Linked DNA regions of Homo sapiens. The protein of the gene in region 5 interacts with the protein of the main gene of each other region in a biochemical or structural test. Each region holds a gene or a part of one and is shown on either strand. Other genes may lie near its edges. The genes, in order: CRB2, PRR16, SDC3, GNG4, GIPC2, TMEM151B and ATRNL1.

Region 1 (3,500 bases), on a different chromosome or scaffold from region 5:
ATCTGCACCCAGAACTGGGAACGGTTTTAGGAGAGCCTATATAGCAGAGAAACAGCACCAAGGATGTCTGGCTTCTGGGCAGGATTAGTGAGCAGAGGTTCCCTGAGCCCCGTGAGCTTCCCTCCACTGTCTTGTCCCTGCAGTCCCCCTTTGAGGCAGTATCCGTCATGCCCATTGCACCAGACAGCAAAAGGAGGCCCAGGAAAGAAAGTGAAGGCTTGCTGAGCCTGCCCAGCCCTGTCCACTTCACACAGCAAGTTAGTGTTCGCTGGGACAGGCTTCAAGGTCTATCTGGATTATTTCAGCTCCACCTGGGGAGGGGTCTCCCTCCTGCAGGCCCCATCCATCCAAGGAGGCCCCAGAGGGTGAGGCTCCTCCCACTGCCCCCTCCACCTCTTCTGCCAGGGGTCTGGTAACTCCATCCCTGGGTGAAACTGGAGATGGGCCCGACCTCAACCTCTGGAGGATGGGTGGACAACTTCAAAAGCAGGGATCGTGTGCTCCGCTGGTCTCATTCCTACCCCTTCTCCACATCACTACCCACCCCCTGCCAGCCACTGGCCTAGGAACTTCTAGAGGGTCCCTGGCCCTAATTTCATCCCCCATCAGCAAACACCTGAGTGGCCGGCCTGGCCAAGGTCGCATGGTACAGAGCAGGTATTGAGATGGCTCACGGACACCTGCCCCTGGCCACCATGATGCTTCCAGCACCGGGGCTCTAACAGAGGGTCACCAACCGGCTTGGAAGCCACGCCCAGAGATCCTCATCCCCCTTCCTCTCCTCCTGCCTTCCTGAGAGCCTTGTCACCACAATGCCCAGGTGAGAACTTGAGCTTTGAAGTGAAACAGACCTGGGTTCAATTTCAGCTCAGAAAGTTCCTAGCTATGAGACCCTGGGTAAGTCATTTCTCCTACAGAGCCTCCGTTTCCCAGTCTGAAAATTAGATCATAAAAGAATCCCCTCATCAAATGCTGAACTATTCAGCTCCCCAGCACCGCAGTCAAGGGCTGCTTTTGGTAACAACTCGGTAAGGGATGGGGGAGGAGAGCCTCCAGAAGACACAGCCTCCATTCCTCCCCCCACCCCCATCCGGAGCTCCCAAAGGTGCCCCTCCCCCACCCAGGTTGTCATCTAGACACTCACCAGACCCCAGAACAGCTCAGACCCTGCACCCTTCCCTCCCCCACTCTGGTGAAGCCCCCCAGATAAGGCTGGCAGCCTCTCAGGCGTCATCCGCATTCCAGGCAGGGCTGTCCTGTGGCCTGACCCGCATCCTTCCAGCTCCCCCAGGAAAGGGCACAGGTTTGGGGCATCGGGCAGTCCTGGTTTGTATCTGGGGTGCAAAAAGTGCCCATCTCATGGAGGTGTTGAAAGGATTCACCAAGGTGATGCAGGGCACAGCCCTGGGACTGGGTGTGGCCAGCACTGCTCAGGAGGGTGCAGCACTCATAACCCATGGTAAAGGGCCCCGGCTGCCAGCGCCTGTGCCAACAGGTCCCTCACTTAATTCCCACAGAGCACTGTCCCTCACCTGTGCAGTGCAAGGAACCCCCCCCCCTCCCCGCCCATCCAATCTGAAGCTTTGCCCCCTATCTCAGAGCAGCTGGGACCACGCTGGGGAGGCAGCACCGGGGAAAGGATCCTGGGGGGCGGGGGAGGTGCCTTGTCACAAGGGATCTTCCCAGGACCATGGGAGCAGATGGGCTCTAAATGACAGAGCCCGGGAGACAGAGTCCAACCCCATGGGAGGAAGGAATTTCTCCAGTCAGAGCCAGGCAGGAAGGGAAGGAGCTGCCCGTCCTGGGAGGCATGCAATAGTGCCACAGTCCTGCCTGGGAGGGACAGCCATCTTTCATGTGTCATCTCAGTTGATCTTGGCATTTACCTCCGAGGTGGATAGGATTATGATGCCTGTTTTACAGCTCAGGAAAGGGAGACTCGAAGCAGCCTCACAGTCCACAGCCCAAGGGAGGCTGGAATCCAAACCCAGGGCCTCACTCCAAGCTTCCCGGAATCACGGGCCCACATTAAGAATACAGATTCCTGGAACCCACTCCAGACCCCAAATTTAGAACCACTGGGCCCTGAGCCTGAGAATCTGCATCGCAACCTGCTCCTGGGGGATTCCTTTCACTTTTAGGTGTGGGAACCGCTGACCTCAGGTTGTCTCTGTCTTCCAGGAGTGAGCCTAGGAGGCCACGATAGCCCAGGCCAGACAGGAGAGGCAAGGAGGGGCGGGGTGTGGAGGGCAGCAGGGCGGAGGAGGGGCTGTCCCCCCTTCCCGGGCCAGGCTGGAGGGGCGGGGCCTGTTGCCAGGGCAACGAGGGGCCTGTGCTTATCTTTACAAATCCCTCCTGACCTCAGGCTGCCTGGGCCGACCTGGCAGGGAGGGATTAACCGACGCCCGCCCCTCCCCTTCGACCTGCTGCCCTGTCCTGGGGAGGGGCAGGAGGACCCAGCTGTTTACTGAGTGTGTACTATGTGCTTGGGCCTGTGCATCTATTATTACATTGTTATACTTGATTCAGACCAGAAAAGGTGGGTGCCATTAAGAAAATTTCTGTTTTTGTAACTCAGAGAGGTTGATAATTTTGCCCAGGTTGAGACGAAGAATCAGATCAGCTCCTGATTTCCCAGAGGTCCACATCTCCCAATGCATGTGAAATTTTCACTTTACAAACCCTAAATTGCCACTCACATATTGTTGCTTTAGTACATTACAGCTGCCTCACCCAGGAAAAAAAAAAAATCTCTAAAGGTTTTCACAGGAATACAGCTTCCAATATCAGCCTGGGCAGAGCAGGCAATCTTCCCCGTCTATCCAGAACCCAGCTGTCAGTAATCCCACTGTGTCTCAGGCCTCACTCATTAGTAACTCCTACTTTTCATGCACTTAGAATGGGCCTGTTTATAACAGCCAACAACTGATGAGAAGTGTTTTACTGAAGCCAGGTGCAGTGGCTCACACCTGTAATCCCAGCACTTTGGGAAGCTGAGGTGGGAGGATCACTTCAGGCCAGGAGCTCAAGACCAGCCTGTGCAAACATAGTGAGACGCTGGCTCTATGAAAACAAAACGAAATAAGCCAAGCATGGGGTGGGTCCCTGTAGTCCCAGCTGCTTGGGAGGCTGAGGTGGGAGGATGGCTTGAGCCCAGGGTGTCGAGGCTACAGTGGGCTATGATTTTGCCACTGCACTGCAGCCAGGGCAACAGGGTGAGACCCTTTCTTAAAAAAAAAAAAAAAAAAAAAAAAACAAAACAAAAACGAAAAACCACAAACAAAAAAAGAAGCATTTACTGGGGAAGCTTCCTGTCCCAACAAATCAAGAGACAGAATATTTCTAAGAAGCGACCTAAGATCTCATAAGGTGTGGGAACTTCTAGCATAGGGGAAGAAATTGTTCATCTAATATCCCTGGGCCCCAAGGCTCTACCCTACAAGGGTAGGGCTGAATAACCATGGAGGCTTGCAGACACTCACTCAGTCATCAGGAAAGGG
Region 2 (3,500 bases), on a different chromosome or scaffold from region 5:
AGTCATTTGCCCAACTCACTTGTCTTGTAAGTGGAGAAGTGAAGCTTCATTGCCAGGTAGCTTGGTGTCAAAGAACAGCATTAACCGCCAAGCTCTTTCACGTTTCCTATTTTTTTTTTAACATTTTCTTAGAAGTCAAGGATCTAAAAGCTTTAAAATTCTCAATTCATATTGCCAAACTGTCTTCCAGGGAGTTTTCACAAATTTTTGCTTGCAGCAGCAGCGTATGTATGGACACTGTTTCTTAAATTGGGAGTGAAGCTAATAAACCATTTCATTATTTCATTAAGGCTTGCTGTGTAGTTTATTATCTTCATGGTAACAGTCATTATTTTTGTAGGTTGCAGAAAACAGTATTGAGACAAAATTAATAGTGAATAAATTAGACCTTGCAATTTAAAATTTGCAAATAAAGATGTGCTGTGATTAATTACCTTTAACTTATTCAACAAAAATGTTGATAAGAATATTACATAGATTTTTAATATTCTGGCTGAGAAAATAAAGGAACAACTAATATGGAAGCTCGTTGATACTTAGCATTGTATATAATTGTTTCAAAGAATACAAATAATTTGGAATATATTATTCTCTTTTGTTGCTATCAAATTACCTTAGAAGAGAGGCACTATCCTTAAGTTTTCTGAGATGTTTGAGGTTTGACAGTTCTCTTGCTTTCTGCTATGACTGATGAATTAGAGAATCTTGTTGAATTCTTTACTAGGAACAACATTATTGAACTGGCTAATGATGTCATATGTATATATTATAATTCGATTTCTTGTATTAACTTTAGTGCTATCGATTATAAACCACCTCCTCTCTCCCACATATAAGGGTTATAAGAAATGGCCTTATTCTAAAATTGTTTGTTTTCTTTTCCAGTATGTTATGAATAGAAATGTTTTTATTGTATTAAAAGTTAGTTCATTAGGATAATTACTCTGAATTAAATTTCCCACAGGAACTGGGAACCCAAAGTCAGCAGAAATTCATCTTTAAACAAGAACCAGAAAGTAGCATTAACTGAAATGAGAAAATAAAGACATATCTAATATCCAAATCAAAGTAGACTCACAAGGTAGTCTGTCAACTCAGGACAAATGTTGTCTTGCTTATATGGGATAAGCTATTTATTTATTTAGAATGGAAAGACATGAGGATTCCAAAGAATTTAAACTCCCAGACCTCACTTTCAGGCAAGAAATATTAACACTGTTAGGACTGAATTTATATTCATCATCTTTGTTTTCTCTCTTTCTACTTTGCAAATGCTGCTTCAGATTGGTGTTTGAGATAAATGTTTACTTGTAGAATAATTGAAGTTAGGCAAATTACATACTTATGCTCAATGACACAGTTATCATGATGTTTGGGACACTATAAATAGATTTTCAACTACAGATAACATATGTTATCCTTGTCTGGAAAAAGAAAATTTGATGATTTCTGACAGGTTCTTTTTGTAGTACCACACAAATGTTAACAGATACATTGGTGTGCATTTTCCCCTTTCATAATATCACCTTATCTCAAGATTTCAAACTGTGTGTTTATATGAGAGAAAAATACTGGGTTAAACAATATCAGTCAAATCAATTGCCTTCTAGCATCAGTGGTTCTTAATAGTCTCCCTCCCCCCATATCACAAACCCCTTTGAAAAAAGGAAAAAAAGTTGGGATTATTTCTTCTGGAACAAAAGCTCACACAAACGTGGTTCCTGCACATGTTCAGGGAATCTTGGGTGGGTGGGAATGACTCAGGTAAAGAGACAAAACAAGTGGTTGATTGCCATTTTATTTTTTAGAAATTTTAGCTAATTGTTTGAGGTTTGGCTCCATAATTTTCAGAATTAAAAGTCCTGGCCCTACAAAAAGAAAAAAAAGAAATACTGATGGCTGTGGTTTGATGTTTTTTATGTAGGGGAAAAAAATGAGTGGCATATCAACAGTTTCTTTCTCTTAGGATGTGATGTCAGTGTGAAAATAGGTGGTATATTTATAATTCACGACTTTGCAAAAGCTGTAGAATGCTTGTGTGTCTGAAAGTTAACTCTTTCATTTTGTCGTTTCTTATGATGTTTGCCATAGTATATCAGTAAATAGATGGACAAAAAGTTTTCAGAACTCATTGTAAATTAAGCATATTCTCTTCTTAAAACTGATTGCAGATCAGCATTTTTATTTGTTTTATTTTTTTCTTATGTCACATTAACATGAATTATGAAAGACATATTGAATTCTTGATATGTGTAAGTCACTGTGCTGAAGAAAGTAAAAGATGCATATATGAATAAGCTTAGTGATCTGCCCTTGAAGTAACTATTTTCTGTTTACTTTTGATGACAGTGATAACACTGTAGGCTATTATGAATTGACATAACTTTGTAATTTTAAAGCCCAAATATCAGAGGTATATTTATGTTTATCCAATTATATATAGAATGAAGTATAAATTTGATTGCCTCTTTATTGCATAGCTCAATGTTTTTGATAAATATTTGGGGTTATCTTTTGTTTTAAAGAATAGGAGAATTTTTAGTCTGTGTTGCTCAGTAAGGTGGCATAGTATAGAAGGGTGAGAGCACAAACTCTGAAGCCAGTCTGCTTTTTTTCAAATTGCTCTGCTGTGCAATATTGAGCACATTATTTAATTTCTCTCTGTTTTCATTTTCTCCATAGTGTGGCGATAGTGACAGTGTTATGTGCAGTATAGGTTGGTTATGAAGATTAAATGAGTTCTTTGTAGAACGTTTAGAATGGTTCCTATGCATAAAGCAAGCATTGTATGTGTGTCTGTCATTAGTGTTATTATTTGAATTTGTCTGAGCCCCTTTATTCATTTATTCAACAAGTAGTGTTTAACACCTACTGTACACCAGGCACTGTTCTAGTTTCTAGGGATATAGTGGGGAACAAAACAGACAAAATTCCTTCATGGAGTTTACATAGTGGATGGGGAGGGTAGGGAGAAGATAGCTCAGTAAAATAAACACTAGTTTACATCAAATATTAGAAGGTGATTTATCTTATGAAGTAATAGAAGATTATAATGGGATGAATAGTGATGAGGAGGAAGTGCAATTTTAAATAGGATTGTTCAGAATAAGCCTCACTGAGAAAGTGGCATGGTGGCATTGGGGAAAATGCTTGAAGGTGAAGGAGCAAGCAGTAAGGAAATCTAGGGGAGCATTTTCCCAAGTAGGGAATAGCAGCCCAAGGGCCTTATAGTGGACAAGTTTCCCATGCATTTGCAGCAGAACAAGGGCCCAGGGTGGCAGGAGTGGACGAGCAGGGCAAGAGTAGCAGTGATAAGGTCAGATAGATATGGGGGACATGTCTAAGGATTTTGATTCTTCCTTAGAGTAAAATGGGACTTCTGAGCAGGGAGGTGACTAAATCTGCTATACTTTCATCTTTTTACCTTTAATCACTGGCTCAGGGTTTCTCAAACTCTGCACTATTGACATATTGAGTGGATAATTCTTTGTTGGGGGGAT
Region 3 (3,500 bases), about 47 Mb from region 5:
TACCCTAGGGCATGTGTACAGGCAGCTAGGGGTGAAGTAGATGGGTGAGTGTGTGCTGGTGTGGGCTGGGCTGTATTGCCTATAGGCTGTGGTGAGTATACAGATTGGTGTGGGCAAACATTGCACTTAATAGTGTGTGTGTGTATCCATTGGGGTGCATAGTACATGCAGAAGAATATATATGCATGAGGATGTTGGGCTGTCGTGTGTGTGTGTGTGTGTGTGTGTGTGCATGCGTGCGCGCGTGTCTTGGGGGTATGGAAGCCTCCTATCAGGCATGGGGGGGTTGTGTTTACCTGGAGGGGGCACAGTGAGGGTCAAGGAGAAGCTGGCAGCGTCCTGGGGCTTTTGGATTCAGTTCTCCTTTAAGGGAATGGCATGGATAATTATGCTTATTATGATGGATTATGCAAATGCGGAGGTCGTTTGGGGGTCAAAGCCTGCTTGTCACCCTCCTCCTCAGGCATTCTGTGACTTCTAAGGCTTTCCCTGCTGCCTCCCAGGCTCCGTTCCCCAACCCCTATTTCTCTGTCCCCTCTGGGAGTTGCAGCTACCAGCACCCCCTCTGTAGTGTTCCTGAGAGGGCCTCATGAGTCCCAGCGCCCATGCCTGCAGGTCCCAGGTGTCCTCGCATTAAGTTCCCGCTGAGCATCCCAGGTGGGCTCAGGGGTGACTGGGCCGTTCCTCCCCCTGCACACCCTGCCATTGGGGATGCTTGCTGTTCGGAAAGAATGTACTCTTGGAAGCAGGTTTGGAAAATTACTGAGGTGGCCCCTTCCCCAGCCTTGCCTCATCAGCATGAGGCTAAATTAGGATGTGTGAGTTCTCCCCTCTGCCTCCCACCCTTGCCTTCTCTCCTTCTCTCGTACCCCCAGCCCACCCTCCCCGTCTCTGCCCCTCTGCCCCCTGGCCTCCCTCAGTCCTCGACTCTCTGTCACCGTCTCTGTCTCTGCCTCCCCCTTCCCTGTCATCCTCTCAGTTCCCCCGTGATCTCTCCCTCTCCTGTACCACCCCATCTCTGTGGGGAGCTGCAGCTCCTGGTCGTTAGCATGGAGAAGATGGTCGTCATGGTAACGGTTGTCATGTCGATGGCTACTGAGCTGGGGATGAATAGTATGTAGGTGAGCGCTACCTGAGTGGAGGCTGATGGGTTTCCAGGAGGCTCGATGCTTGTCTCTGAGCTCAGAGCTGCACAGCAGGCCCAGCTCCTCCTGCCCCATGTGAGTGGCTGTTTTTACCCCCAGGCATGCTGACACGCTGAGCCCTCTGTGGCTGCTTTTAGGTGAGCATGTTTCAGTGTGTGTCTGTGCATGTGCTGTGTCTCTGGGGTGTGTCATTTCAAGGGTCTATGTGGCATGGGGGTAGGTCTTTGGGTTTGTACAGGCTTTTCTTGGAGCAGGAAGTTAGGGGCTAAGTGGCACTGGTCACTGAGGAATCTTGGGGACTCCCTTGTTTTGGCACCCACATTTACTTCAGTTGGGGGCTTCCAGGGACCACAGACCTCTTAGTATCCCTCCTCCCAGCTAAAGGCCTCCCAGCCACTGCCCAGCCTACTGGGAAGGATAGAAAGACAGTGAAGACAGCCCTGGGCAGGGGCAGGAGCCGGAGCCTGGGTCCCTGCTCAGTCCCCATTCTTCTGTGTGACTTCAGGCTGCTTGCCAGAGAGCTGGAGGGAGCAGGGACTCCAGGTTGGCTGGTTCAGGTTGTGGAGGGGAGTGCCATGGGGAGTTCTAGCTCCTCCACCGTGGGTATTTTTCTTTCTGGGCAGAGGGGAGCTGGGGAAAAGTTGGGCCCTACTGCTCTGAGCTCCTAGAATGTTTAAAAAAGGAGGAAGACCCAGCAATTCGTCACGGGAGAAATTACACTAATTGTTCCACTCCATGACTCACTGGTAGAAAGTAAATACTGATTAATTCATTACTTTGAGACTATGTGTGTGTGTGCATTTTGTGAGGGGGCACCTCCTGGCTCCCTGCCCTGGCTGGGCTGGGCAGGGCTCTGGAGCAGGTGGTTGAGGCTGGGGATATGAAGACAGGATTGAGATCCTCACTCTGGCTCTGTATCAACTCCAGAAGGGGGCCCATCAGTGGCAGGGGGTGAGAGGCTGGGCCCCAAATGCAGGGCCATTCCAGCCCTCGCCTGCTCACACATGCCCCAGGGCTCCCCACAGCCAGCCCAACATTGCGGCTGCTCAGAGACCACCCCAGACCTACTGAACCACTGAATTTAGTTTTCACAATATTCAGATGTGCAGTCAAGATGAAAAATGACCAGTTTCTAAGAGAAAGTCATCAGCCAGACACTGAAAGCCTTCTGGGATGGGACCCCAGGTGACTTGCCACACCCCACCCCTGCCCTGTGAATTATTCACACACGCACTTTCCTTCAGGGTACACACAAGATCTCTGTCACCCACGTGGATGTCACTCAGCCCACAAGGGCACCTGTCGCCCTTCTGGGCTCACCCAGGCTGCCAGTCTCGGGTGCCGAGCCCTGTGTCCACCTCTACCTTCCCTAGGCCCAGCGCTGGCGCAGTGAGAACTTCGAGAGACCCGTGGACCTGGAGGGCTCTGGGGATGATGACTCCTTTCCCGATGATGAACTGGATGACCTCTACTCGGGGTCGGGCTCGGGCTGTAAGTACCCCCCTCCCTACCTCTGCCTGGGGGCAGTGACCAGTCTGTATCCAGCCTCAACTCTGAGAAGCCCACGGGGGGCTTGCTTCAGTGAGGCAGGGGGCATTCACTGCCTGGGTCAGGCAAGTTCTTCTTGCTCTGGATCCCCAGAACAAGAAGGGCAGAACATCCTTCTGGGGATAGAACAAGACCTGGGAGGACCTCAGGGCCCAGAATGTCCAGGTCTCCAGGGTCCCACGTCTGCATCTTTGTGTGTGCTATGTGGCTTTCTCTGCAGACCTTGCTTGGTTCCGGTGGTCCCGTCAGGTGCAATAAGCTGTGGCCAATGGTGGGGTTAGGGCAGTGATGACACAGGGCAGGTGCTTCAAGTGGTGCCTGGGATGGCCCCGCCCTGGGGAAGGGGAGCCAGGTCAGCTGGGTCTAGCAGAATCTCGGGAGAGAAGGGCACCGCGAACCCCACTCTGCCATGTAGCAACTGTGTGCCCCTCGGTGCTCCCCCTCCCTGAATCCCTGTATTTTCACCTGTGGATGGTGAGAAATACGACTTCTTCTCAGTGCCTCTAGGAGGGTTTGGGATAGGAAGCTGGGGTCTGGCACAGAGGAGGAGCTCTCAAAATGGTAGCAAAAAGAAGGCAGCTGAGACTGGGCCCAGTGAGGGCACGGGCTGGCATCTGAGGAGATGGTACGGGGTCTGCACGCCACAGAGCTGGCTCCCCACAGCCCTCGCCTCTGGTCTCCCCTCCTTAGCCAAGTCCTTTGAGCCTCTTTCAAATTAATCTTTGTAAAACCCGTTTATATTGGGTCACATCTCTATTCGCAAAGTTCCCTGGCTCCCCTCCCTCCTGCCTGGTTCCGAGCCCAGGA
Region 4 (3,500 bases), about 160 Mb from region 5:
TCAGTGCCAACTCCCCATTCGCCCTGCCCATGCCTGGTGACCACCGTTCTACCTTTTTCCTCTGTGAATCTGACTACACTAGGTATCTCATATAAGTGGGATCATACAGTATTTATCTTTTTGTTCCTGTCTTATTTCACTTAACTTATCGTCCTTAAGATCCATCTATGTTGTAGCCTGTATCAGAACATCATTCCTTTTCAGGGCTGAGTTGTATTCCATTGCATGGATAGACCACATTTTGTTATCCATTCATCCATTGATGGACACCTGGGTTATCTCCACCTTTGGACTATTGTAAATAATGCTGTTAGGAACATGGGTGTGCAGGTATCTGTTGGAGTCTTTACTTTGGTTCCTTTGGGTACCCACAAGTGGAATTGCTGGATCATAGGGTAACTCTATGTTCAACCTTTTTACCTTTTTTTTTTTGAGAGATGGAGTCTCACTCTGTTGCCTGGGCTGGAGTGCAGTGGCATGATCTCAGCTCACTGCAACCTCTGCCTCCTGAGTTCAAGTGGTTTTCCTGCCTCAGCTTCCCAAGTAGCTGGGATCACAGGCATGAGCCACTACACCCAGCTAATTTTTGTTTTTAGTAGAGACAGGGTTTTACTATATGTTGGCCAGGCTGGTCTCGAACTCCTGACCTCAGGTAATCTGCCTGTCTCGGCCTCTCTAAGTGCTGGGATTACAGGCCTGAGCCACCATGCCCGGCCTTATGTTCAGCCTTTGGAGGAACTGTCACGCTGCTTACACAGGGGCTTCATCACGTCACGTCATCACCAGCAGTGCACAGGAATTCCCGTTTCTCCACATCCTGACCAGCACTTGTTTTCTGGGTTTTTTTTTATTAATGTATTTACTTTTTTTTTTTTATTAATGTATTTACTTTGACAAGTAAAAATTAAAGTCACTCACTATCATGACGACAGTACTGAGGGGGATGGTGTATATTTATGGTGTACAACATGAAGTTTTGACATAGGCATACATTGTGGAATGGCTAAGTCAAGCCATTTAATGTATGTATTCTCTCACATACTTAGTTTTCTGTGGTGAGAACACTTAAAACCTATTCTCTTAGCAATTTTCAAGTATACAATACATTGTTATTAATTGTAGTCACCATGATGTGCAATAAACCTCTCGAATTTATTTCTTCTAACTGAATTTTTTTTTTTTTTTTTTGAGATGGAGTCTTGCTCTGTCACCCAGGCTGGAGTGCAGTGGCATGATCTCGGCTCACTGCAACCCCTGCCTCGCGGGTTCAAGCAATTCTTCTGCCTCAGCCTCCCAAGTAGCTGGGATTACAAGTGTGCACCACCGCGTCCAGCTAATTTTTGTATTATTAGTAGAGACGGGGTTCGCCATGTTGGCCAGGCTGGTCTCAAACTCCTGGTCTCAGGTGATCCGCCTGCCTTGGCCTCCCAAAGTGCTGGGATTACAGGCCTAAGCCACCGCAGCCAGCCCTGAAACTTTGTGTCCTTTGACCAACATCTCTCTAATCTCACCACCCCACAGCCTCAGGTAGCCACCATTTTACTCTCTATTTCTATAAATTTGACTTTTTTACACTCCACATATAAGTGAGATCATGCAGTATTTGTCCAGTGCATGGCTTATTTCATTTAATATAATATCCTTCAGGGTTACCCATATTTTCTCAAGTAATAAGATTTCCTTCTTTTTTAGGGCTCAGTAGTATTCTATTGTGTAAATATACCACATTTGCTTTATCCATTCATTCGCTGATAGACACTTAGGTTGATTCCATAACTTGGCTATTTTGACTAATGCTGCAATGAACACAGAAACACAGATCTTTCTTTGACATACTGATTTCGTCTCCTCGGGTTATATACCTAGTAGTGGGATTGCTGGATCCTATGGTAGTTCTATTTTTAATTTTTGAAAAACATCCACAGTTTTCCAAAATGGCTGTACTAAATTTAATTCCCACCAATGGCATACCACGGTTCCCTTTTCTCCAAACTCAGCAACACTTGTCATCTTGTGTATTTTTGATAATTGCCATCCTAACAGGTTTGATGTGATATCTTGCTGTAGCTTTCATTTGTATTTCCCTGATGATCTAGTGATGTCTGTTTTTTTAATAATAGTCACCCTAATGAGTATGAAGCTCACACATGGTTTTCAGCCCTAGGCATCCCTGGTTTCAGGGCACAGTGTGGCTTTGCAGAAAAATCTATGTGATGCAAGACTTGAAAGAAAAAAAAAGAAAAGGTGCATCTTGGTATCAGCCAGACTATACGAATGTGGAAAGAAAGGGGAGCTGTCAAGGACACTCCCGATGACCTCGTCAAGGACCTTGAGGAGGGAAGAGAGAGGAAGTCACCAGGGAAAGGCAATGGCCTTTCTGGGATGGGTACGAGGTTACTGCCAGAGAGGAGGAAGGAAAGAGGGAGGCTGGATAGGAAATGACAGAGGGCAGCCCTGGGGAAGGAGGAGAGGAGCAGTTTTTAGAATCCACTGAACTCGCACACACCATGTCAGAAACACCAGGGCCAGATGACAACACTGAGATGGGCCGGGCGCAGTGGCTCAAGCCTGTAATCCCAGCACTTTGGGAGGCCAGGGCGGGTGGATCACGAGTTCAGGAGTTTGAGACCAGCCTGACCAACATAGTGAAACCCCATCTGTACTAAAAATAGAAAACTTAGCCGGGCGTGGTGGCACGTGCCTGTAGCCGCAGCTACTTGGGAGGCTGAGGCAGGAGAATCACTCGAACCCAGGAGGCGGAGGTTGCAGTGAGCTGAGATTGCACCATTGCACTCCAGCCTGGGTGACAGAGCAAGACTCTACCTAAAAAGAAAAAAAAAGAAAACACTGAGATGGATTTTCCAAGGAAGAGGAAAAGGCCAGGCCCATACTGACTGCATAGTGAGAATGCCTAGCAGGTGAATGTGCACACGACGATAGGGCAGGCTGCATGGGAACCAGCTGGAGGGTCCATGGTAGGAATCGTGGCAACTCCCAGGCCCACAGAGCTGGCTTCCAGGTGAGAGCACGGCAGATGGGAACCCAAAGAGGACATCCCAGGCGAGGGCAGGTACCAGCAGGAAACCAAAAGGGAGCCCCCGGGATGGCATGGTATGTAGCCAACCATAGGGCCCACCACCAGGCTCTGTAGCTTATTGTGCTCAGGAGAGTTTCTAAGGAGGAAGGAAGGAAAAGAAGGCATTTGCCGCCCAGGAAAATAAGGGGACATCTGTCACTGGGAAGAGAAAGGAAAATATAACTGCATTAAGCAGTTCTGGGGTTGCAGAAGTAAGAAAGAGTAATAGTGCCAATTCAGAGAGCTTTGCACGATTCATGGAGGAAAAACGTAGCTGAAATATTCATTATTGTCTTGAAGTTCTGCTTGTCCCCATTTGCACAAAAGCACAAGTGCAAATATAGACTTCAGTAGGGGATATAGATTGAGGCATTACACCACAAAGCCCACAGCAAGATCTTAAACCCACACACAGTGTGGTTCA
Region 5 (2,989 bases):
AAGCAAAATTCTGAACTGGAGTTCTACTTCAGCAGTACTTCACCTTAACATTCTGGCTACTCTTCTTTTACATCCTGGCTATGAGACCAGAGTTCTGGACTTCACTTTCCCCAGTGCATGCTAACTGTGCCTGTGCAAAAAGTATGTAAGTGTAATTACACACCCTCCTCTTGCACCACCCATTCACTAGCATTTATTATGCATGAGACACTGAATTAGTTACTACGGGCATAAAAGACTGAGTAAGCTACTCAAGATCTGTTGGGAGTTTATTCTTTTAGTAGGAGAGAAAAAAATACACAGAAAAATAAATGTCAGTGCAGAGCAATGTTGAATTTGCAGTCTAAGACCTTTTTATTGAAAGTGTTTCCTGAGGACCAGCATCACCTGGGAGTTGAAAATGCAGAATCTCAGGGCTGCAGAACTACTGAACCAAAATCTCCATTTTGCCAAGATCCTAGGTGATTTGTTTGTGCATTTAAGCATGAAAAACACTGGCAGAAGGGTTTAGAGAATGGGGATATCTCTTCCAGCTGTGGACAAAGGATTTCATGGAGGAGAGAGCCTTGAAGGAGAGAAGGATTTTGATGGTGGTGCTGGTGGCTAGGAGGAGGTTATCCTGGGCAAAGGCAGAAAGCAGCGAAGATAGCATTTTGAGTGGTCAGATTTATGAGGGTACAGCATTAATGTAGTGTAGTGTAGTGAGAACCAAGGGTTCTGTAGATTAGACTGCCACTAGGGTTTAGTTTTAAAGATAAACATTGGTTACACAAGGAAAAAAAAATTGTGTGTGTGTGTGTGTGTGTGTGTGTGTGTGTGTGTGTATGTATGTATTATGGATTCATGGCTTCCTGTTCTATTCACTGGAGTTATAATATATTACCATCATTACTTATTTGGATATTTAAATTATCCCTGATTTGGTCAGTGTGAACTCTTGCACTCTGACATCTATATCCTTTTCACATGTTCCCATCATTTTGTGACACTTTCTTACTTTCTGGTACAAGATAGTCTTGGTTCATATTGCACTTTGCCTGCTCTAGCCCTGGAATCTGCCATTTTTCTGAGGAAGTCTTAGTCTTTCTAATGGAGAATGGTATTTAAGAACCAAGATTTCGGTGCTTTGTGTACTCATTGTAGTTGGGATGTCATGCTTCCAGGACTGAGGAATGTGTATACACATGCATGTATGCATTTATGTCTGTATTTTTATAACACCTCAATTGGAGATATATATATATTTCCAGTGATATCTACAATTCTAATTCCATAGGGTTCATTCTTATTTTCTCCCTTTCCCTATTTATCCTTTTCTGGCAGTGACAAACTTGATTCCTGTTGTTCTGTATGTATGTGTCTGTGTATGTGTGTATGTATGTGTGTGTGTGTGTGTGTATGTATGTGTGTGTGTATGTATGTGATCCATCTCCATATGTGTAACTAATCTCTTATCACCGTGGCTGCTGCCCTCCCTCCCCATTCCCATGCCATCCTCACCACATCTGTACTCTCCCACCCCATGCCAGGCTGCCTGGCCATATAGAAGCCCTCCTTACCTTACTAGAGGTTTGATCCCTCTACTAGTTCACTGCACCCCCACCCTACTTCTGCTCTGATCCTGGTGCTCTTCTGTAGGCCACATCTCTCCCTTTTCTTCCTAGCCTGCCTTGTGTTAGGACTGAACTGATGGGAAGAGGCATAGCTTTTATCTCTCTAGACCTTGTGGCTCGTTCAGAGAAGTCATACAAACTTGGATTAGTTCATCCTTAACCTGGAAGGAAAGGAGATGCTGGAGCTTTTCCCTGGGGCTTTGGCGTTTCCCTTTCACATGGAGGTTTTTCACCCAAGTCCCACATCACATATACACCATCTCTTTCTGGTTGCTGGTGCTTCTAGGGTGCTGAGTGGAAATCCACTGAGCCTCTTGGGCTCCCAGACAGCTGGGGCAAGTCCTAAGTACTCCTGAAGATGCTGGTTCCAAGACATAGAATATGGAACCCAGGCAACTTAGTAGAAAAACTGAACAAGGCCGCCACTTTCATGTTCTATCCCAAACTGGAGAGGGGCTCAGAAAAGGTACCTTGATTCCACAGGTAGACAGATGTCTTCCTCTGCTTCTCCCCAGCTTGACTGCTCCAGTGCAAGCTGTCATCCTTTGTCTTTTTGTCTTTGGGCAGGGAGGACTGGACTCCATCTCAGTTGGCAGTGGGGGACTGGTGGAGGAGGGAGGGAGAGTAGTGACTATTAGGAGGTTGGGGAAGGGGTGTTCTTTAAGTTTCCTGCTAGGGTTAGTCACAGCCACAGGGTTTCTTTCAGGGGATCTTGTTCTACCCATGGGAATGCCAGAGGTTCCCAACTGATGGGCTCCAAGGTTGGGTAGGGGGCAAGGGTGGCAGCTGCAAACCTGGGTTCAGTGGACACATTGTTGAAAAGTATCTTTGCCACCTTGATGTGTGTGTGTGAGAGAGGGTATCTTACTGTTTTAATTTGCATTTAATTTTGCATTTAATTTGAAATATATTTATGCATGTTACTTTTAGCAAGTAATTTTCCTGTTGCCATTTTTCTCAGTCCTTTGATGCTATTTCATTTATTGTTAATTTTTTAATATTATTTTTGATAGCCACCACAATGTTTGAAGCTGGAAAGGACAAAGTAAATCCAGATGAATTTGCTGTGGCACTTGACGAAACTCTTGGAGACTTTGCGTTCCCAGACGAATTTGTCTTTGATGTTTGGGGAGTCATTGGTGATGCCAAACGAAGAGGATTATGATGTGTACACTCCATCTCTGAAGAAACAACCCATCGTTCTTTTTTTTCTCTTTTTTAAAAAGTCCTATAAGATCTGTTTTTGGACACCTTTACTAACTCTGGTTTAATTTCATGTGTATGGAATATATTCTTTGAAATATAATTTTGGTAATTTTGATTTCTGGGCACTTTTTAACATTGCTGATGTAGTATGCTTAAGAGAAATGACCTAA
Region 6 (3,248 bases), on a different chromosome or scaffold from region 5:
ACACCCACAAATGACCAACTTCTTTCAGGAACAGGGAAGTCAGAGAGGTGTCTGAGGGACTGTGCCTGCCAGATTCTCCCGTTGGGGCTGCCTGCCTCCCTGACTCCCCACCATTTTCTTCTCTACCAAACAGATCCTTGATCTTCAAACACACACACACACACACACACACACACACACACACACACACACACACCCTCTGGCTACAGCAGGGCTATGCCTGGCTCTCTCTGCCACCCTCATCCCTGTAGATGCATTTCCCTGTTGCTTGACTCTGCTTTAAGTGATCCAGTTCTACAGGCCACGCCATCCCCTAGTTCCCCAACTCCCAACCTGGGAAGGGGACAATGAGCTGACACCAGGGGCTCAGACCCAGTGGACTCCTCTGGGGAGGCAACTGTAGATGACAACTTCCAGGGAAGGATGACACAATCCCTGCCACCCACCCCAGAGAGCTTCCCTGGGAGGGAGGGAAAGAAGTGCCACACTGGGACAGGAAGTCAGTGAGTCATCCACGACTTTATTATCCACCAGTTTGATTTGTACAATCTTTGCGCTTAAATCCACGACAAAAAGGCCACAGTGTGATGCACCCAATTGACAGAGACCTGTCTTCTCCCCAGCCAGGCCCAGCCCACCCCACAAGCCCTTGTCCCCAGGACACATGGAGCCTTCCAGGTGCCCTACATGAGTCCCCCATCACTCTGTAGCTGTCCACCCTGGGGCCACACCTACAGGAATCACATCAGCCCCCAGGGCCACAAGAGACCTAGCTGACTGATTCAGGCTGAGCGCCATTGCCCATCCTCCTTGGGCTGATTCATTGGCCCAGAGCCTCCAGAACTGTGTCCCCAAAGGGCAGGTCATGGGCTACAACCCCAGTCCAGGAGTGCCTGCTCTCCAGGGACTCCTTCCGCTAAGCAGGCGCTGAGCAGAGCACCAAAGGGGGCTTGGGAGTGACTGCATGTGTGTGCCTGTCTAGGCAACCTAGAGTCTGTCTGTGCCTGACACCCTCTGACAGTTCCGGAGTGCAAACGTGTAGGTGTGAGGGTGTGTGTGTGTGTGTGTGTGTGTATAGCCACAGCTGCTAGCAGAAGTTCTAATTAGAGAAACAAGAACATTCAGTGTAAAGTTTAATTTTAGAGATTAATTAATTTTCTGGTTTTCATTTTCCCTGGCAATCAGTAAAGCTACCAAGAAAATAGACCAAAGAATTGGTTTCTCTCTAAGTCTGTGCATGTGTGGGAGATGAGGCTGTCTGAGACGACCTAGGCAGAAATGGTCAATACAGGCAAAAATAATAATAGAGGTCCCCCTTCCCCTCTTGTGAGACCAGGCTCTGTCTCAGGAACAGGCCTGAGGGAGGAGGAGCCACGTTCCTCCTTCCTTGGAGCCCTGAGGTGGCCAGGCTGTCCCCACACAAAGCATGACATCCAGGTGCCAGCTGGCTAAGAAATGGAGCCTGAGGCTGCAGCTCACCACCTGTACCTCACAGATGTCCATTCAGAGGAAAGAAGGGTGCTCCAAACGCCAGGCCCCCAAGGAGCACAGACTCAGGGTCCAGGCAGGTTCAGTGCTAGTAGGCAGGTGGGCACTGCTGTCCAGGAAAACCTGGTGGGCAGCTGTTTCCCCTGCCCAAGCCTCCCTCTCTCTAGCCTCTTCTCCCTCCTCACTCAGCCATCTCTACCTGAAAGTAAAGCTAAACCCTTTAGAAGCCATGGGCCATGGTATCCCCACAATTTGGGCCCCTCGCACTCCCCGCTAGGAAGAAGGGAAGGGGAGCCAGAGGCGATGTTGCATAGGTGGAGGCCACACAGTTGGTGGTGCAGGCCTGGCTGGGCTGAAGGAAGATGAGAGGGGCTGAAGGAGGGTAAGGAGGAGTTCTGATGGCTCAGGCGAAGTAAGAAGCATCAGGGGTGAGAGATGTGGGTGGCCCAAGGGTTATCCTCTCTAGCCTGAAATGTGAGCTCAATCCCTGGGTGCTAAATCTGCTGGGGAGACTTTAGCCAGGGGAGTTGGCAGGGCAGGAGGGCTGTTCACAGACATGCACACTGAAGCACATCAGGGTGGAGGTGGTGGGGGGAGCACACGGAGAGAAGGCGGTGTCAGAGCTTTAGGGGAACAGGACGTGGGGCCAGCGCCCTGGGGTGGTGGCAGGATGCCCCTTTGAAGACCCTGCGACACACAGCAGGGCTTCAGCTCATAGGATAGGGAAGGATGGAAGGGTTGGGCAAGATTTAGAGAATGCTTGCCTCTGACCCTGCCATTGGAATTATTTCTCCAGTTGGGGCTTGTGACAACGTCCTCAGTCCCCCAGAGATGTGTTTGAGCGACAAGCACACTCCACTCCTCCGCACAGGTTTAGGGAGGCAAAGGCCGCCCCCACAGACACCCCACCTCTGGAGGTCCTTTTCCTCTACCCTCCACTGCCCTCTCCTCTCTTACTCCCACCTGCTTCCAGAGGTCCCCGTTGCCACCCAGGTCTATGTCATGCTCTCTCCCCTTAGTCACTCGTGCTGGCCAGCTTTAACGAGTGCTGCCCGGGTGGCATCTCACTCTCTAAAAGGGGTATACACTCAGAACCCAGGTGAGGAGGCCCCTGTTGGGAGGCTGAGGAGTTTAGAGAGAGGACTGAGGTACACAGTCCTCCACATTTCACTCCCCTCCCCACTGCACCCTGGCAACAGCTCTGCAGGACTGGGGAGCGGAAGGTGAGTGATGTCTGTGCAGTGAGCACAGTCCCTCTGGACCTGGAGTGGGGGCCCAGTTAGATAAACAACAGTGGAGGGAGCGGCAGAAAGGAAACCCCAATCTTGGGGTCAGCGCCAAGAAGAGGGCAGCAACATTTCCACGGTGTTGGATGGAGGCCTAGGGCTGACACCTGGCCCCAGCCTCAGACCTGCTGAATGCATTAGCTAGTTGGAATCCAGCCTGCTGGTCACCAAACCATTGCCCCCTCCATAGAGAGAGGCCCCAGGGGAGTGAGGCCACGAAGGAAGGAAAGCCCCAAGTTCCCTTCTCCACAGCCTCTAAATCTCCCATCCGCATGCCAGGGCCTCTCCCTTCAGACAAGGCCCAACGCGGGGCCCACGGCACGGTTGTCATCTAACAGAAGATCTGTTGAAGGGCTGGACAGGAGGGAGGTGTCCCTTTAGGAACTCAGGGTTGGGGCTGGAAGAATGACTCTGCCAGGGGGATCTCGGGGAGCAGCCGACCCCCTCCCACCCATCGGTCTCTTTATGTACAGG
Region 7 (3,500 bases), on a different chromosome or scaffold from region 5:
TGCGGCTTGTCTATGAAAACAATGCAAAGAGAATGAAATCTCTTGACAGTATTTTTCAAAGAATCTAAGTTTTAAATTGATTAATTCCAGTTTATCATTTTTTTCTTTTATACTTTTCATGTTGTGCCTAAGAAAAGTTTGCCTAGGCTGGGTACTGTGGCTCATGTGTGTAATCCCAGCGCTTTGGGAGCCTGAGACAGGAGGATCACTTGAGTCTAGGAATTTGAGTGCAGCCTGGGAAACAAGGCAAGACACTGCCTATACAAAAACATTTGAAAAATTAGCTGGTCGTGGCGGTGTGCGCATTTAGCCCATCTACTTGGAAGGCTGAGATGGGAGGATCACTTTAACACAGGAATTGGAGGCTGCAGTGAGCTGAGCTGTGATTGTGTCACTGTACTCCATCCTGGGCAACACAGCAAGACCATGTCTTTAAAAAATAAAAAATAAAAAAAAAAAGAAAACTGCCTAAACCAAGTTGATGAAGATTTTCTTCATTTTTTTTCTCTAGAAGTTTTGTAATTTTAGATTTTACATTTATATTTATGGTCCATTTTAAGTTAATTTCTATATATGGGGAGAGGTATGGATCTAAATTCAGTTTTTTGGCATATAGGTATTTGTTTTAGCACTATTTGTTGAGAAGAGTATTCTTTCTCTGTTAAAGTAGCTTTGCACCTTTGTTGAAACCATTCATATATTTGTGTTTCTATTTCTGGACTCTGCTTTGTTTCTTGATCTCTTTGTCTATTTGTATGTCAGTACAACAATGTCTTGATTATTGTTTCTTTGTAAGTCTTGAATTCTGGGAGTGTTTTTCAGTTTTGTTCTTTTCCAATTATTTTGGCTACTCTGAGTCCTTTGTATTTCCATATGAATTTTAGAATCAGCTTGTCAGTTTCTATAAAAAGCCTACTAGGATTTTGTTTGTAATTATGTTGAGTCTATAGATCAATTTTGGGGAAAATGAATACCTTGTCAGTTTTGAGTTTCCTACATGGTATATCTGTTTATTTATTTAGTTGTTTAATCTGTCAGCAGTGTTTTTAAATTTCTAGTCAATAGATCTTGCACCTCTTTTGTCAGATTTTTCCCTAAGTAGTTAATATTTTTGGATGCTATTGTAAATGGCATTTTTTAAACTTTCACTTTTGATTGTTGCTATTATACTGAAACACAACTGATTTGTGTATGTTTGATTTTTTATCTTGCAATCTTGCCAAACTTACTTATTACTTGTGGTAGATTTTTGCAGATTCCTTATGGCTTTCTACTTAGATGATTATATTGTTTACAGACAAAGATATATTTACTTCTTTCTTTACAATCTAGATGCCTTTTTTTTTCTTGCCTTATTTCACTGGCCAGAACCTCTATTACAGTAATGAATAGAGGTGATGAGAGTGGTCAATCTTACTTAAGATTTAGGGGGAGATATTTGATCTTTAACCATGAAGTATGATGTTATCTGTAAGTTTTTTTTTTAGATGCCTTTTATCACACTGAGAAAGTTCCCTTCTATTCCTAGTTTGCCAAGAGTTTTTACCAGTGATGGAAACTGGATTGTATTAAATGCATTTTCTGTGCCCATTGAGATAATCATATGATTTTTTCAAGTTTGTTAACATGGTGAATTATGTACATAATTTTTGAATGTTAAACCAACCTTACATTCCTAAGATAAACTTCCTCTGACACAATATGCTTTCCTTTTTATTTTAGGTTGGATTTGGTTTGTTAAAGTTTTATTTAGAATTTTTGTATCTGTGTTCATGAGAGATATTAGTCTGCACTTTTCTTATAATATATGACTAGTTTTGGTGACAAGATAATGCTGGCCTCATATAATGAGCACCATGGGACTCTCCTGATCATTTGCTGAAAGAGTTTTTAGGGAATTGGCATTATTTCTTCATTAGTGTTTGGTGGAATTCACCATCGACACCCTCTAGGCCTGAAGTTTTCTTTAACTCCAAATTCAACTTTTATTAATATACATTCAACTTATTTAATATACAGAAGGCTATATGACTAGAATCCTTTAAAATTTATTGGCCAGAATATTGTCTATCTTGGTTAAGTATTTTTTTGGGCGTGTGAAAATAATGTGTATTCTTCTATTGATGGGTGGAGTGTTGTATACATTTCAGTTAGGTCAACTTGGTTGATAGTCTTGTTCAAGTCTTCTACAACCATTCTGATTTTCTGTCTGTTTTTACCACTTATTGAGAGAAGGGTATCTTCAGTTATAATTTTGTATTTACCTGTTTGTCCCTGCAGTCTTATCTGTTTATCCTTCATGTATTTTGAAACTATGTTATTAGGTGCATAAAATTTTGGATTATGTCCTCCTGATAAACTGAGCCTTTATCGTTATCCAATGACCATTTGTTGAAAAGACTATCCTTTTTTCATTAATGTCTTTGTACCTTTATTGAAAGTTAATTGGACGTCTTTATGTATATTTATTTTTTGACTCTTTTCTGTTCCATTGATCCATATCTCTATCCTTTTGCAAATTCCTCACTTTATTAATGTATGTATGTACTTTATTAATGTATGTATATGTGTATATATATATACACATACATATATTTGAGATGGAGTCTCACTCTGTTGCCCAGGCTGGAGTGCAGTGGCATGGTATCAGCTCACTGAAATCTCTGCTCGTCAGGTTCAAGCGGTTCTCCTGCCTCAGCCTCTTGAGCAGCTGGGATTACAAGCATGTGCCACCTCACCTGGCTAATTTTTGTATTTTTGGTAGAGATGAGGTTTTGCCATGTTGGCCAGGCTGGTGGTCTCTAACTCCTGACCTCAGGTGATCCACCCACCTCGGCCTCCCAAAATGCTAAGATTAGTATATTTTTACAGTAAATCTTGAAGTTAGATAATGAGATTCCCCCAACTTTATTTTTATTTTTGAAAATTTACTTGGTTCATTTTGTTTTTCATATACATTTTAGAACTGTTTGTCAATTAAAAAAGTCTTGCTGGGATTTTTATTGAGATTGTGTTGACTTAGTAAATCATTTTGAGGAGAATTGATATGTAAATAATATTGAATTATCTCGTTCTTCATTGCAGTATGTTTTTTTCATCTATTTGGGTTTTCATTGATTTTTTACAACAGTTTTTTGTAGTTATCAGATACAGATTCTGTGTATATATTTTTAGTGTTTTTTTTTTTTTTTGAGATGGAGTCATGCTCTGTCACTCAGGCTGGAGTGCAATGGCATGATCTCGGCTCAATGCAACCCCTGCTTCCTGGGTTCACGCGATTCTCGTGCCTCAGCCTCCTGAGTAGCTGGGATTACGGGCGCCCATCATCACGCCTGGCTGATTTTTTGTATTTTTTGTAGAGATGGGGTTTCGCCATGTTGGCTAGGCTGGTCTCGAACTTCTGACCTCAGGCAATCCGCCTGCCTCAGCCTCCCAAAGTGCTGGGATTACAGATGTGAGCCACTGCGCCTGGTCATATTTTTTGATTTTATACCAAAATA

The links.
Region 1: the proteins of GIPC2 (region 5) and CRB2 interact in a test that uses a peptide from one of them, tested with the Homo sapiens proteins (one large-scale study listed by IntAct).
Region 2: the proteins of GIPC2 (region 5) and PRR16 interact in a test that uses a peptide from one of them, tested with the Homo sapiens proteins (one large-scale study listed by IntAct).
Region 3: the proteins of GIPC2 (region 5) and SDC3 interact in a test that uses a peptide from one of them, tested with the Homo sapiens proteins (one large-scale study listed by IntAct).
Region 4: the proteins of GIPC2 (region 5) and GNG4 interact in a test that uses a peptide from one of them, tested with the Homo sapiens proteins (one large-scale study listed by IntAct).
Region 6: the proteins of GIPC2 (region 5) and TMEM151B interact in a test that uses a peptide from one of them, tested with the Homo sapiens proteins (one large-scale study listed by IntAct).
Region 7: the proteins of GIPC2 (region 5) and ATRNL1 interact in a test that uses a peptide from one of them, tested with the Homo sapiens proteins (one large-scale study listed by IntAct).

What each region holds. Positions count from the first base shown.
Region 1 is NC_000009.12:123,359,197-123,362,696, reverse strand, and holds part of CRB2 (protein crumbs homolog 2 precursor), read right to left. Parts: intron 1-3,500. UniProt on the Homo sapiens protein: Apical polarity protein that plays a central role during the epithelial-to-mesenchymal transition (EMT) at gastrulation, when newly specified mesodermal cells move inside the embryo.
Region 2 is NC_000005.10:120,470,800-120,474,299, forward strand, and holds part of PRR16 (protein Largen), read left to right. Parts: intron 1-3,500. UniProt on the Homo sapiens protein: Regulator of cell size that promotes cell size increase independently of mTOR and Hippo signaling pathways. Acts by stimulating the translation of specific mRNAs, including those encoding proteins affecting mitochondrial functions.
Region 3 is NC_000001.11:30,877,759-30,881,258, reverse strand, and holds part of SDC3 (syndecan-3), read left to right. Parts: intron 1-1,168; exon of another isoform or gene 1,169-2,318; coding exon of another isoform or gene 2,319-2,330; intron 2,331-2,518; coding exon 2,519-2,636; intron 2,637-3,500. UniProt on the Homo sapiens protein: Cell surface proteoglycan that may bear heparan sulfate. May have a role in the organization of cell shape by affecting the actin cytoskeleton, possibly by transferring signals from the cell surface in a sugar-dependent mechanism.
Region 4 is NC_000001.11:235,576,785-235,580,284, reverse strand, and holds part of GNG4 (guanine nucleotide-binding protein G(I)/G(S)/G(O) subunit gamma-4), read left to right. Parts: intron 1-3,500. UniProt on the Homo sapiens protein: Guanine nucleotide-binding proteins (G proteins) are involved as a modulator or transducer in various transmembrane signaling systems.
Region 5 is NC_000001.11:78,132,966-78,135,954, forward strand, and holds part of GIPC2 (PDZ domain-containing protein GIPC2), read left to right. Parts: intron 1-2,083; exon of another isoform or gene 2,084-2,216; intron 2,217-2,626; coding exon 2,627-2,778; 3' UTR 2,779-2,989.
Region 6 is NC_000006.12:44,276,697-44,279,944, reverse strand, and holds the end of TMEM151B (transmembrane protein 151B), read right to left. Parts: 3' UTR 501-3,248; downstream 1-500.
Region 7 is NC_000010.11:115,099,865-115,103,364, forward strand, and holds part of ATRNL1 (attractin-like protein 1 isoform 1 precursor), read left to right. Parts: intron 1-3,500. UniProt on the Homo sapiens protein: May play a role in melanocortin signaling pathways that regulate energy homeostasis.